2 linked regions of the Homo sapiens genome follow. The protein of the gene in region 1 purifies or fractionates together with the protein of each later gene. This does not show direct contact. Each region holds a gene or a part of one and is shown in the gene's direction. Other genes may lie near its edges. The genes, in order: LYRM4 and KLHL22.

Region 1 (7,289 bases):
TTCTATCCAGCAGGCCCTTTATCACTCCTGTCTAGAGTGCCCCCTCTTCCTTCAAGATTGAGCTCAATTGTCACCTTCTCTGAACAAAAGTTTTCCCAACTCTCTTCATCCCACAGCTTCCACTCCCATCCCTCCCACCAGCCAAACAGGTCTCATTGCTGTGTGTCATTCTTTTACCTCAGTGCTTCTACAAAACATCTCTGAAGCATGCTTTGCCCAGTGCTATATCACAGCTATCCCCAACCTTCTTGGCACCAGGAACCAATTTCATGGAAGACAGTTTTTCCATGGACCGGGTCAAGGGAGGGGATGGTTTCGGGATGAAACTCTTCCACCTCAGATCATCAGGCATTAGATTCTCATAAGGAGCATGCAACCTAGATCACTCACATGCACAGTTCACAATAGGTGCACCTATGAGAATCTAATGCCGCCGCTGATCTGACAGGAGATGGAGCTCAGGCCATAATGCGCACTCACCCACCGCTCAACTGCTGTGTGGCCCGGTTCCTAACAGGCCACGGACCAGTACTGATGGGTTGGGGACCCCTGCTATACCAAGCCCTGGAGAGAGAAAGATGAGATTTTTGAACTAAGCTAGGCACCTGTTATCAATGGCTTTACAGGCCTATGTGGGACACAGGTACAGAGATAGTTGTCACAGACTGGGTTAAGTGCTGTGACAGAAGGATGTACAAGGTGTGGAATCTAGAAGGCCTCCCAAGGGGTGATGTTGGATCAAAGGCATGAAGCAGCTTGGTGTGGTCAGGCAGGCAAACAGCACAGCACTGCCAGGGAGGTAAGTATGATGGGGTTGGGGGGGCGGTGACAGGAAGGCACTGAGGTTGGAGAGGGCCACTGATTTGAGGGCCTGGGGGCCGTGCTGAGGACCCTGGACTTTACCCTTAGCTCACAGGCAGCCACTAACCTGACATGACCAGATTTGCATTTTCTGATAGATCACTCTGGCAGCAGTGTAGAAGATGATTTTGAGGGGCCAAGGACATCAAATGGGAGTTGATTACAACAGTGCAGAGTAGAGATTAGGACGCTAGTAAGGACAGGAATAGTGGAAGATAGAGAAGAATGTTGTATTTGATAAATCATTAGAAGGGAAAATTGTTGGAACTGGAATGATTGGATTGAGGACTAAGGAAGAAGAGAATCCAAGCAGAGTCTAGAATGGCATCCAGGTTTCTGGTTAAGCTAAAGCACAGAGAGGGTGAATTTAAACTTGCACCATTAACTGACTCAGGTAATACAGAACTAGCTGGTCTTGTGGAGAGAGGGTTTTTTAGTTCATATTTAGGGTATCTTGGGTGTAAATTTCCCCTGGGATGCCCAGCAGAGGTAGTTAATCACAGGGCTCTGAAGCTCAGAGGAGTGATGAGCACTGCAGTAGTCAGCACCACCAACTCTGTGTGACCCCACGCAAGTCACATCACTCTCTGTTCTGCAGTTTCTTTATAAAATGAGAGTCATAATTGATCCATCTCACACAGTGTAAAAGGGTCCTGAGACCAATAAGTTTAAGAACCACATTCTTTTTTTTTTTTTTTTTTTTTTTTTTTTTTTTTTTTTTTCCAGTTGAAATCTTGCCCTTGTTGCCCAGGCTGGAGGGCAATGGTGCGATCTTGGCTCACTGCAACCTCCACCTCCCAGGTTCAAGCAATTCTTCTGCCTCAGCCTCCCGAGTAGCTGGGATTACAGGTGCCTGCCACTACGCCTGGCTAATTTCTGTATTTTTAGTAGAGGCGGGGTTTCACCATATTGGCCAGGCTGATCTTGAACTCCTGACCTAAGGTGATCCGCCCACCTCGGCCTCCCAAAGTGCTGGGATTACAGGCATGAGCCACCGCGCCTGGCCAAGAACCACATTCTTAAATTTTGTCTTCTTGGCTCTTCTTCAGCCAACTCCTTCAATTCTGATGTTCCCTAGAATAGCATCCGTAGCCACTAATTTTCTCACCTTAAACTAGGATTTCTCAATCTTGGCATGACCAACCTTTTGGGCCAGCTAATTCTTTGTTAATGGGGGCTGTAGTCGGCACCACTGTGGTGAGTTAATACACATCAAGTACTTAGGATAGTCCCTGGTGCAGAATAGGTACTTGATAAGTGGAATTATCATCATAAGTCAAATTAAAACCTAGATATTAGATGAATTATCTAGGAATACTATTTAGGTTAGTAGTTCTCATCCTGGGGTGATTTTATTTGACAATATCTGAAGACGTTTTTGGTTGCCACAACTTGGAAAGGGGGTGCTAGGCATCTGAGGCCAGGGATGCACAGGGGACAACCCCCATTAACAAAGAATTAGCTGGCCCAAAAGTTTGGTCATGCCAAGATTGAGAAATCCTAGTTTAAGGTGAGAAAATTCGTGGCTACGGATGCTATTCTAGGGAACATCAAAATTGAAGTAGTTGGCTGAAGAAGAGCCAAGAAGACAAAGTTTAAGAATGTGGTTCTTCAACTTAACTGGTCTTAGGCCTTTTACGTTCTTAAATATTACTGAGGACCCCAAAAAGCTTTCATTTATGTGGGACGCATTTATCATATTAGAAAAAAAAAGCTTTTAAAAACACCTATTTTAAAGTGACTAAATCCATTATGTTAAATAACACTTTTATGAAGAATAACCATTTTTCCTCCCCCTAAATCAGCAGATTGATAGTTTGACACTAGTGCAAGTCTCTTTCATGTTTGGCTTAATAGAAGACAACTGGGTGCTTATATTTGTTGCTATCTACAATTTGTTGCTATATCACATATCACTTAGTGTCTAGTAATTTCCCCTGTATACTCATGAGAGAATGCAGATGTCTTCCTGATAACTATGAAAATAGTTTTCCTGGTGGATCCCCTGAAAGGTCTCAGAGACCCCCGCCATGGTCCCTTGGCTAACTACTGTAGGGTTGAAGAAATGGGAGGAGATCAAGTAAAGAGTAGTGTTGCAGAAGTCAAGATAGTCATATGTTTGGGGAAGGTAGCTGTGGTCAGCAGGGTGGCTTGTCTAAGCAATATCCAGTTCATAAAGAGGGCAATGTAGAGCCTCTGGTACCATTACCAGAGCAGCATTGTTAGTCAAGTGGTTATGGCAGAACCCAGATTGTGGGGGTTGAGACATGAATCAGAAGTGCGTAAATTGCTGCCGTGAGTAGAGATACCCCCTCCACCTCCCACCGGAATTTTGGTTAATAAAACATGAGAGTAGATAACCGATAGAGCAGGACCCCACGAGAGGTGAAAAGTGGTACCTGAGAGCACAGCTGGTGGGGTTGGTCTTGGACAGAATGAACGGTATTTCATTTTACATGAGTGGAATGAAGGAGAAGAGGGCAAGTTGGAGTATGAGAGGGTGGAAAGTTGAGTTTATTTGTGCCAAGCCTGACAGCCAGTTTCTGGGTTAAGCGGGAGATAAGCAGATGTTGAGGAAGCACCTGTTCTTACCTTTGTTAGGGCACATATCACACATACACAGTTACCAGAAATTCTGTCTTATCTCTATTCCTAGTGCTTAGCATAGTACCTAGGTAGCAAGTTGGTGCAAAAGTAATTGCGGTTTTGGGCCATGAATTTTAAATTATTATAACTAGGATCAAATATATCTTTATTAATCAAAATAGGAACTATTACAATCAACATGTTTTTGCCAACAAGAAATAAGTTTATTCCTGTGGCGTAAAAATCCGTGCTTCGGGATTCTACAAACTCTTGGAAAGCATTTTCTTCATCCTGCTAGTCAAGGAAGCGTTTTCCCTACAAAAAGTTGTCGAGATGCTTCAAGAAGTGGAAGTTGGTTAGCGAGAAGTCAGATGAATATGGCGGATGAGGCCAATTCGTTCAACTTGTGAAGCGTTGGTTTTGTGACATGCAGTCAAGGGTCATTATGGAGACAGTTGGGCCGTTTCTGTTGACCAGTGCTGGCTGCAGGCATTGCCGTTTTCAGTGCATCTCATGGATTTGCTGAGCATACTTCTCAGATGAAACAGTTTTGCCGGGATTCAAGAAGCTCTAGTGGAGCAGACAACCAAACAGTGAGCATGACCTTTTTTTGATGCAAGTTTGGCTTTGGGAAGTGCTTTGGAGCTTCTTGGTCCAGCCACTGAGCTGGTCATCACCAGTTGTCACATAAAATCCACTTTTCATCACACATCACAATCTGATCGAGAAATGGTTCATTGTTGCATGGAATAAGAGAAGACAACACTTCAAAACGATGGTTTTTTTTTTTTTTTGCTCAGCATGAGGCACCCACTTATTGAGGTTTTTCACATTTGCATTTTGCTTCAGATCGAACGACCATCGAATGGTCAACATTGAGTTCTTTGGCAACTTCTCGAGTATTGTAAGAGGATCAGTTTCCATGATTGCTCTCAATTGGTCGGTGACAACTTCCAATGGCCGGCGACTAGGCTCCTCATCTTCAAGGCTCTCGTCTCCTTTGCAAAACTTCTTGAACCACCACAGCACTGTACCTTTGTTAGCAGTTCCTAGGCCAAATGAGTTGTCGCAAGTTGTCGCTGCAGCTTTTTGACCAATTTTGAGCTCAAATAAGAAAATTGCTGAAATTTACTTTTTGTCTAACATTATTTCCATAGTGTAAAATAAACATAAACAGCAAGTCATTAGCAAAAAAAAAAACTGAGAATTGCCCATTAAAATGATGTATAACATAACCACATTTATTTAAGAATTTATTCCAGTATCAAACAGCAAATTCCAGCAATGCAAAAACTGCATTCCTTTTGCACCAACATAATAAATATTCATTGTTGAAATGCAAGAGAAAATTATATTCAATGTATCCCTCTTATAGCTTAAGAAATATGTTATTGTAAAACTTGAGAAAAGGCTAAAGTGATGCCCAAATGCATACCAAGTGTAGTGTCAGAACTCCCTAATTCTTCATCAGATATTTGAGTTTTTATTAATGTGTTATACACTAAGCATTGTGCAAAGAGCTTCAGATCAAAATGAGCCTCCTATTAAGGGTAAAACATTACAAGCTCCTAAAGAAGTTTATCAATGAAGTACAAAGGAAAGGCCATAGAAAGGAGCTGGTCTCCTAAGTGCCACCTTAAAATTAGGAATGCTTTTGACCAGAAGTCATAGGAAGCCCTTACACAGGGCTTAATTGGGGGCTTATTCTTCTCACATAGGAAAGGTCTAGAGGTATGTAGCTGCCAGAGCTTATTTAGCAGCTAGAAAATGTCAAGGTATGTGTGAGTCTCGGTGTTCCTCTCATGCTTATGCCTGATGGTTGCAAACAGCTTTTGAAGCTCCAAATACATCCTTATTTAGTCAGGAAGAAGAAGGGCAGTCACAGCCAGGAAAGGGTAAAGCTTTCCAGGAGGACTCTGCTTTTGCTCATTGACCAAAACTTCATTACGTTTATATCACTAGGTAAACAACAGGCTGGAAAATTAGGATACAGCTATTCTAGCATCTCTAGTGAAAAGACAGCAGAGAGAAAACGGTGGGAAGAACTATTGATTAGGCAACAGTCTGTGTCAGCCACAGAGGTGGACATGCGATGGAAGAGCATTCCAGGCAAAGACAGTAAGGCATGTGAAAAGTAAAATGCAAGGCGTGTGTCAGAACCAGACGTGGGTAATTGTGGCTGAAGTGTTGGACTGAGCTAAATGTCATGATGTTAAATGCTAGGTAAAATCCCCAGTAAGTAACGAAATAGGTTTCAAGGCAGAGTGAGGCATAGAGAGGAGAAGCAACTTGATTGGTCTCACAGTTGGTCAAGGGCAGAATGGGATTAGAAGGCCGCCTCGCTCCCCGTGGGCTGCCGCTTCCACAACCCCATTCTTTTCAGAAGAAAATTCCTGCACCCATGCATCCTGTGAATAAGCCTGCAAAATCTGTAGAAACATCAACCTGGAGAAGTTTATTTTCACAGTTCCTCCTTATAGGTGAAATGGTTAAACAGGCTCCCTAGTTTCATGAGTGGTAAAATTCCTAAGTCCTGATCAACCTAAGTGCTGATCAACGTCAGGTCTCGCTTACTATGTACTACACAACTGAATGAAACACTGATATCTGTGATTGCTGTCTTAATGAAGGAACCAAATAATGATTCGTGTTTAGGAATCTGTTTTCTTTTTGAGCCATTGGAACTCTTTAATATATTACCAGTCGCAATCCAGATTTATTGGCAAGCTGAGGAATTAGAACCATGAGCTCCTGGAGTGGGAACCAGGCAGCCCTCTCACTCATCAAAGGATTTCTTTCACATGTTTTCCTTGTTGCGGATCTTTTAACAGTGACTGCCTCTTCCACCCTATGTGTCACTGATTGATCAAGAAGGCTAGCATGCAATGATACAGTTTGGATGTTGTCTCCACCCAGATCTCATGCTGAAATGCAATCCCCCGTGTTGGAGGTGGGGCCTGGTGGGAAGTAATTGGATCATGGGGGCAGGTTTCTCATGAATAGTTTAGCACCATTCCCCTTGGTACTGTCCTCACAATAATGAGTGAGTTCTCATGAGATCCGGTTGTTTTAAAGTATGTGGCATCTCCTTCCTCGCTTGCTTGCTCCTGCTCTGGCCTGTGATGTGTCTGCTCCCCCTTCACCTTCTGCCATGATTGTAAGCTTCCTGAGGCCTCCCCAAAAGCTGAGCAGATGCCAGCATCACAATTCCTGTACAGCCTGCAGAACTGTGAGCCAATTAAACCTCTTTTCTTCATAAATTAGCCAGTCAATGTGAGAACAGACTAATTCAAATACCACCCTAATATGAATAGTATTAACAAGCACCTTTCACTTTGTAAAACAGGGCAGCTACAGTGAAAGCCTTCATGCCAAATATTCTTCTGGAGACAAATCAACAAATCCATTTCTTCCTAATATTTCTTGAAAACTCACAGTGTGTGTGTGTGTATGTATATATTACCACACTAGAACCTAGTAATAGGTGGAATCAAACACAAGATGGCCCTGCTGTCACAAGATTGTAGTATGGTTGCGCATATGCAATGTACATATAAGGACGGCTCAAGAAACTTACAGAGGAAGCATGCAAATTGAAATAGTGCCCGAACAGTGGAGATTTGCAGAATGTACTGGGGCTGAGGAGACACCTTGCATAATGATGTTTTGGCTGTCATATATCGTATTACAGAAATATTTTTTAAATAACATTGTATTCTATTTTAAGCAGCCAAATAAGAGTTTTGCTCTCTATGAAATGTTGAACACATCATACATGTCTGTAAAAATTGCTTTCACTCTTTTATTATACCATATGTAAGAACATAGTAAAGGAAGGGAAA
Region 2 (7,289 bases), on another chromosome or scaffold:
CCTGCATTGTAAACCATAGTGGATGAAAGGCTCAGCATCTATTACATCTGTGATATACCTGAGGGTTAGCAGGGGCATCTGCATATACTGTAGCAGGCTGGGCAAGGAGTCTTTCTGCTCTTTCTTGGCATGCTTCACCCAACTGATGACAGCCTCAAAGACTGGTTCTTCAGGATCCACCTGAATTTCATCGCACTTGATTAGCTTTTCCACCTCTCCTTGCCTCAGAAGAATGAACTCTTCATGCTGTACCACTTCAGGAAAATTCTTCTGGCTAAAAACCTCAGCTGCTTGTGTCAGGTCAACACAATTGTGGGTTTCAGCAAAATCCCTAATACCCAGGCAATTAGAAGGGTCCAACTGACTTTCTAAGAACTCACAGCAGGCTTGTTTCACACCTTTCAACTGAAGCAGACAGGCTGCAGGAAGCAGTTCCTGTACATTCTCCATGTCACATGTACTGTTTCCGTGTACACAAAGTCCAATAAAATTTCCATGGTAGAGGCAGTCAAACCTTGGATGTCAACATAGGGTTTCCCCTTCTATAAAGGTCACTAGTGAACATGGCACAGAAGTAATCACTACAGGCAGCCAGCACAATCTCATGGGCAGGAAAGTCTTTCTGCTCTACTCAATGTCACATCACAGAAGGTATTGCTCTTCCCAACGGAGTTCATTGAACTGAGGATTGATTTAGCATGAGTATTTGTCATTATGTCTTTGGGGGCCATAATGCCTCCCATAAAGCAGTGCGGAGAAAGAACAAAAATAGGTCCTTGGATTCTGCAACTCTGCTTCTGATCCCACACAGCCGCGCCAGGGCCTGTCCCCAGCCTGTGGGGATGGAGTGGGGTGCGGGTCCAGCAGGTGGCTCAGGAGGAGCCGAAGCGTCGCCGCCGCCGCCCCGGCCCGGAGGCTCTGGAGCTGTCCGGGTCTGCTCCCTGCGGCCACGCGACGTGATGACCAGAAGAAAATCTTGAGGATCTAGCTAGGGCTAGGCAAGGAATTCTTAGACTTGACCCCAAAAGCATGAGCCATAAAAAGAAAAATTGATAAGCTGGACTTCATCAAAATTAAAAAATATTTGCAAACCACCTATCTGACAAAGGACTAGTATTAAATAAATACATATATAAACAACTCTTAAAACTCAATAAACGGCCAGGTGTGGTGGCTCACACCTGTAATCCCAGCACTTTGAAAGGCTGAAGTGAGCGGATCACGAGGTCAGGAGTTCGAGACCAGAGACCAGCCTGGCCAACATGGTGAAACCCCATCTCTACTAAAACTACAAAAATTAGTTGGGCGCGGTGGCACACGCCTGTAATCCCAGCTACTTGGGAGGCTGAGGCAGGAGAATTGCTTGAACCTGGGAGGCAGAGGTTGCAGTGAGCCGAGACCGTGCCTTTGCACTCCAGCCTGGGCGACAGAGTGAGACTCCATCTCAAAAACAAAAAACCTTGGCAAAATACTGCAAATAACCCCATTAAAAAGAGGGCAAAAGAAGCCGGGCACGGTGGCTCACACCTGTAATCCCAGCACTTTGGGAGGCCAAGGTGGGTGGATCACGAGGTCAGGAGATTGAGACCATCCTGGCTAACACGGTGAAACCCCATCTCTACTAAAAATACAAAAAATTAGCTGGATGTGGTGGCGGACGTCTATAGTCCCAGCTACTTGGGAGGCTGAGGCAGGAGAATGGTGTGAACCCAGGAGGCAGAGGGTGCAGTGAGCTGAGATTGTGCCACTGCACTCCAGCCTGGGCGACACGGCAAGACTCTGTCTCAAAAAAAAACAAACAAAACAAAACAAAACAAAACAAAAAACAGAAGGCAAAAGAGTTGAAGAAACATTTCACTGAAGAGGATGTATAGATGGCAAATAAGCATATAAGGAGATATGTAACATTATTAGCTATCAGGGAAATGCAAATTAAAGCCACAGTGAGAGAACTACCTCAGGATGACTAAAATAAAAAGTAGTGAAAATACGAAATACTGGTGACTGTGCAGGGAAACTATGCTCATGGATTGCTGATAGGAATGTGAAATGGTACAGCCACTCTGGAAAACAGATCTGGCAGTTACCATCCTGGGTATTTATCCCAGAGAAATGAAAACTACTCTGTATACGTTAGCCAGGCATGGTGATGCGTGCCTGTAATCCCAGCTACTCCGGAGGCTGAGGCACAAGAATTGCTTGAACCCGGGAGGCAGAGGTTGCAGTGAGCCAAGATTGTGCCACTATATTCCAGCATGGGCAATAGACCAAGACCCTGTCTCAAAAAAATAAAAAATAACTTATCTGTACATGAATGTTAATAGTAGCTTTATTGGTAATAGCCAGAAACTGGAAACAAATCAGGTGTTTTCAACAGTGAATGGTTAAACAAGCTGTGGTAGATACCCATGGAATACTACTGAGCAATAGAAAAGGAACCAACTATTGGTACATGTTGAGTACCCTTTATCTGAAATGCTGGGGACCAGAAGTGTTTTGGATTTCAGATTTTTTCAGATTTTGGAATCTTTGCATTATAGTTACTGGTTCAGCATTTCTTATCCAAAAGTCTGAAATGCATTTCCTTTGAGTGCCGTGTTTGTGCTCAAAAAGTCTCAGATTTTGGAGGTACTCAACCTGTACATGCAACAACCTGGTAGAACCTGGGTTGGGGTAGAAAGCCAATGTCAAAAGGTTGTATACTGATTTAATTCAGACAACACTCTTGAAGTTACAAAACTGTAGAAATAGAGAAGAGATTGGTGGTTTCCAGGGCTTAAGGAAGGGATTAGGGTAAGGGAGGTGAGTGGATGTCACCCTAAAGGGCAGCCCCTCGGGATCCTGGTGGTGATAGGACAGTTCTGTGGCTGTGTCCACGTCAGCATCCTGGTGACCCTGTGATATAGTGACACAGGCTCCTACCATGGGGGAAAGAAGGCACGTGAGACCTCTGTATTTTTACTTCCAACTACACGTGACTACACTTATCTCAAAATGAAAAGTTTAATTAAAAAGAAAAACCTCGGCTGGGCGTGGTGGCTCATGCCTATAATCCTAGCACTTTGGAAGGCCGAGGCAGGTGGGTCACGAGGTCAGGAGATCGAGACCATCCTGGCCAACATGGTGAAACCCTGTCTCTATTAAAAATACAAAAGTTAGCTGGGTATGGTGGCGGGCGCCTATAATCCCAGCTACTCGGGAAGCTGAGGCAGGAGAATCATTCGAACCCGGGAGGCGGAGATTGCAGTGAGCCGAGATCGTGCCACTGCACTCCGGCCTGGTGACAGAGCGAGACTCCGTCTCAAAAAAAAAAAAAAAAAGAAAAACCTCCCCAGACCCCTACTGGTGATAGGAGAAGACCCAAACCAAACCCTTGGTGTGTGTTCTTCCTCCCCACTGCTCCGTCCACCTCTCTAGACTCTTGTGTTTTTGCCACCCGCATGGCCTCAGTGTTAGTGACTTGCCCAGTAACATAGCTCTGGAGCCTCCACACCCTGAGGGGCTCCTCTACCCTCAAAACACCCAGGGCCTTGCCTTGGGGCCTTCTGTTGGCCTGCTGGGTGTGAGTGGGTGGGTTCCGGAAGTGGTAGGGCCAGGGTAAGAGGTGCCCATGATGGGGGCAGGCTGGGCCCTATGGAGATAGCCCAACAGAGGGAGGGTAAAAAGCCCACAGAAGGTTCAGGACCAGAATCAAGAACCATGTGTATTTTTCTCCCCACATCATGAGTTTAGTGTCAGATATTATTTACAAACATTTTAAAAGCAGGGTCAGCAGGCCCGGAGGATTGCATGTCCAGTGGGAGTGGGGGAGGGGTGGAGGCCACTGAGGGTGGGTCAGCGGTCCCCAGGGTTCTGTGGCTTCTTCCAGACTGGCTTGGAAAAAATGCTTTTATTTTCTTGGAGTTCCCCCATGCAGATGTTAACTTTAGGAGCAAAGGAAAGACAAAGGCTACATTTCATTTCTGAGTCTATAGATGTATCCGCTATTGGGAAGAGGTTAGAGGTCAATGACTAGGACAGTATGTCCCATGAGAATCGAGGGAGGATTCTTGTCTGTATGTGAGTGGGAAGTGGTGAAGCCTCACAGCGTTGTCAGGCAGGTGTGGGGTGGTGATTGGCCTTGACAGAGTACCCAGCCACCCTTCCTCACTGCCCTCTCACGCCATTTCTCCTGGTGGCTCCACACAGGTGTATGCCCACGCAGGCGCGACGCTGGAGGGGAAGATGTATATCACCTGCGGCCGCAGAGGGGAGGATTACCTGAAAGAGACACACTGCTACGATCCAGGCAGCAACACTTGGCACACACTGGCTGATGGGCCTGTGCGGCGCGCCTGGCACGGCATGGCAACCCTCCTCAACAAGCTGTATGTGATCGGGGGCAGCAACAACGATGCCGGATACAGGAGGGACGTGCACCAGGTGAGTGGGGCCCGGGGCAGTCCACACCCGTCATCATTCCCAAGCCTCTCAGTTGTTATTGATGGAAAATGTAATTGAATCATGTGCCTTTTAAAAATAGACTATTTTTTAGAGCAGTTTTAGGTTCACAGCAAAATTAAGTGGAAGGTACAGTTTCCATACACCCCCTTTTCCCCCCATACACATATAGCCTCCCCACTGCAGACCTCTCGCTCCAGAGGGGTGGATGTGTCACAGTTGTTGAAACTGCATTGATGCATCACCATCAACCAGAGTCCACAGTGTTCACTCTTGGCACATTCTATAGGTTTGGACAAATGTCACCATGACAGTATCACACACATACACATCTACCTTTGCTTATTACTCTTAAAAACTTTTAGGCCGGATGTGGTGGCACATGCCTGTAATCCAAGCAGTTTGGGAAGCCAAGGCGAGAGGATCACTTGAGCTCAGGAGCTTGAGACCAGCCTGGGCATCATGGCAAAACCCCATCTCTACAAAAATACAAAAATTAGCCAGGTGTGGTTGCATGCCTGTACTCTCAGCTACTTGGGAGGCTGAGGTTGGGGGATGGCTTGAGCCCAGGAGGCAGAGGTTTCAGTAAGCTGAGATCACGCCACTGCACTCCAGCCTGGGCGACAGAGCCAGGCCTTGTCTCAAAAAAAACAAAAAAAAACAACAACAAAACTTTTAGATCCAGGCTGGCAGCACATACCTGTAGTCCCAGCTACTCAGGAGGCTGAAGTGGGAGGATTGTTTCAGCCCAGAGTTGGAGGCTTCACTGAGCTATGATCACACCGCTGTTCCCCAGCCTAGGTGACAGAATGAGACCCTGTCTCTATTCAAAACAAAATAAAACAAAACAACAGAACAAAACTTTTATTATAAAGTTAATATAACCACATTGCCGGAACTTTAAAAAATAGAGATGGGTGGCCGGGCGCGGTGGCTCACGCCTGTAATCCCAGCACTTTGGGAGGTTGAGGCAGGTGGATCACGAGGTCAGGAGTTCAAGACCAGCTTGGCCAAGATGGTGAAACTCCATCTCTACTAAAAATACAAAAATTAGCCAGGTGCGGTGATGGGCGCCTGTAATCCCAGTTACTTGGGAAGACTGAGGCAGGAGAATCGCTGGAACCCGGGAGGCAGAGGTTGCAGTGAGCTGAGATCACACGACTGCACTCCAGCCTGGGCAACAGAGCAAGACTCCATCTCAAAAAAAAAAAAAAAATAGAGAAGGGTGAGGAAAAGCATTCATAATCAGGCCCCTGCAGTACTGTTTTTCAGTATGACCATTTTCAGCATTGACCGTGTATGTTTTCTGCCTGATTGTAGTCAAAGAGCATCCCATTCTGAGCTGGGCACAGTGGCTCACACCCGTAATCCCTGCATTTTGGGAAGCCAAGGCAGGTGGATGGCTTGAGTCCAGGAACTGATACCAGCCTGGGCAACATGGTGAAACTCCATCTCTACTAAAAATACAAAAAAAAATTAGCCAGGCATGGTGGCTTGCACCTGTGGTCCCAGCTACTTGGGAGGCTGAGGGAGAATCAACTGAGCCCAGGAGGTTGAGGCTGCAGTGAACCGTGATGGTGCCACTGCACTCCAGCCTGGGCAACAGAGCGAGACCTTGTCTCAAACAAACAAACAAACAAACAAAAAAGAGCATCCCATATCCCATTCTGCTTCTCTCAGTGACTTTTGTCCTGGGCATTTTCCAGATTAACACTCAATCTTCATCATCCCCTCTTGTGTCTAAGTTTTAACTATTCCAAATAACATGACAAGTAATAGTTGCTTTGTTGAGCTTTTCAGGTATTTTGGATTATTTCCTTAGGTTCATGCAACAGTTCTCAAAGTGTGATTCTCAGACTAACAGAGTCTGCATCACCTGGGAACGCTGTGTTACGAGGCACCTCAGACCCACTGATTCGGAAGCCCTGAGGGTGGGTCTTGGCGATCTGGCTTTTAACAGGTCCTCTGCTTGTGAGATCCTCTGGGCCAGCACATTAGTTTTCTATTGCTTCAGTAACCTATCACCACAAACATAGCAACTTAAGATAAATTTATTCTGCATTCATAAGTCCTCTGACATGGGCCTTGCCAGGCTAAAACCAGGGTGCGGTCAGGGCATCTTTCCTTTGTGGAGACCCTAGTGGGGATCTGCCTCCCTGCTCACTCTGGTTAGAAGAATTCAGTCCCTGGCAGTTGCAGTCCCATTTCCTTGCTAGCTGTCAGTTGAGGGCCTTCTTGGCTTCTAGAGGTCCCCACTTTTCCTGGCTTGGGGACACTTCGTCTTCAAAGCCAGCAATGGCAGGTTGAGTCCTCCTCACTTCTCAGCTCTCTTGTCTGGCTTTACCCTTCCTTTTTTTCTTTTTTTTTTTTTTATGAGATGGAGTCTTGCTTTGTCACCCAGGCTGGGGGGCACTGGTGCAGTCTCAGCTCACTGCAACCTCTGCCTCCTGGGTTTAAGCGATTCTCCTGCTTCAGCCTCCGGAGTAGCTAGGAGGACTACAGGTGTTCGCCACCACACCTAGCTAATTTTTCTATTTTTAGTAGAGACGGGGTTTTGCCATGTCGGCCAGGCTGGTCTCAAACTCCTGACCTCAGGTGATCCACGCACCTCAGCCTCCCAAAGTGCTAGGATTACAGGCGTGAGCCACCACCCCCGGCCTCCCCTTCCACTTTTTTTGTTTGTTTGTTTGAGACAGAGTCTCGCTCTGTCGCCAGGCTGGAGTGCAGTGGTGCTCTTGGCTCACTGCACCCTTTGCCTCCTGGGTTCAAGTGATTCTCCTGCCTCAGCCTCCCGAGTAGCTGGGGTTACAGGCATGTGCCACCATGCCCAGCTGATTTTTGTATTTTTA

What was found.
Region 2: the proteins of LYRM4 (region 1) and KLHL22 purify together in Homo sapiens (affinity purification with mass spectrometry; 2 studies listed by BioGRID and IntAct, with this or other methods). This does not show direct contact.

Annotation. Positions count from the first base shown.
Region 1 is NC_000006.12:5,250,786-5,258,074, reverse strand, and holds part of LYRM4 (LYR motif-containing protein 4), read left to right. Parts: intron 1-7,289.
Region 2 is NC_000022.11:20,443,576-20,450,864, reverse strand, and holds part of KLHL22 (kelch-like protein 22), read left to right. Parts: intron 1-4,188; coding exon 4,189-4,422; intron 4,423-7,289. UniProt on the Homo sapiens protein: Substrate-specific adapter of a BCR (BTB-CUL3-RBX1) E3 ubiquitin ligase complex required for chromosome alignment and localization of PLK1 at kinetochores.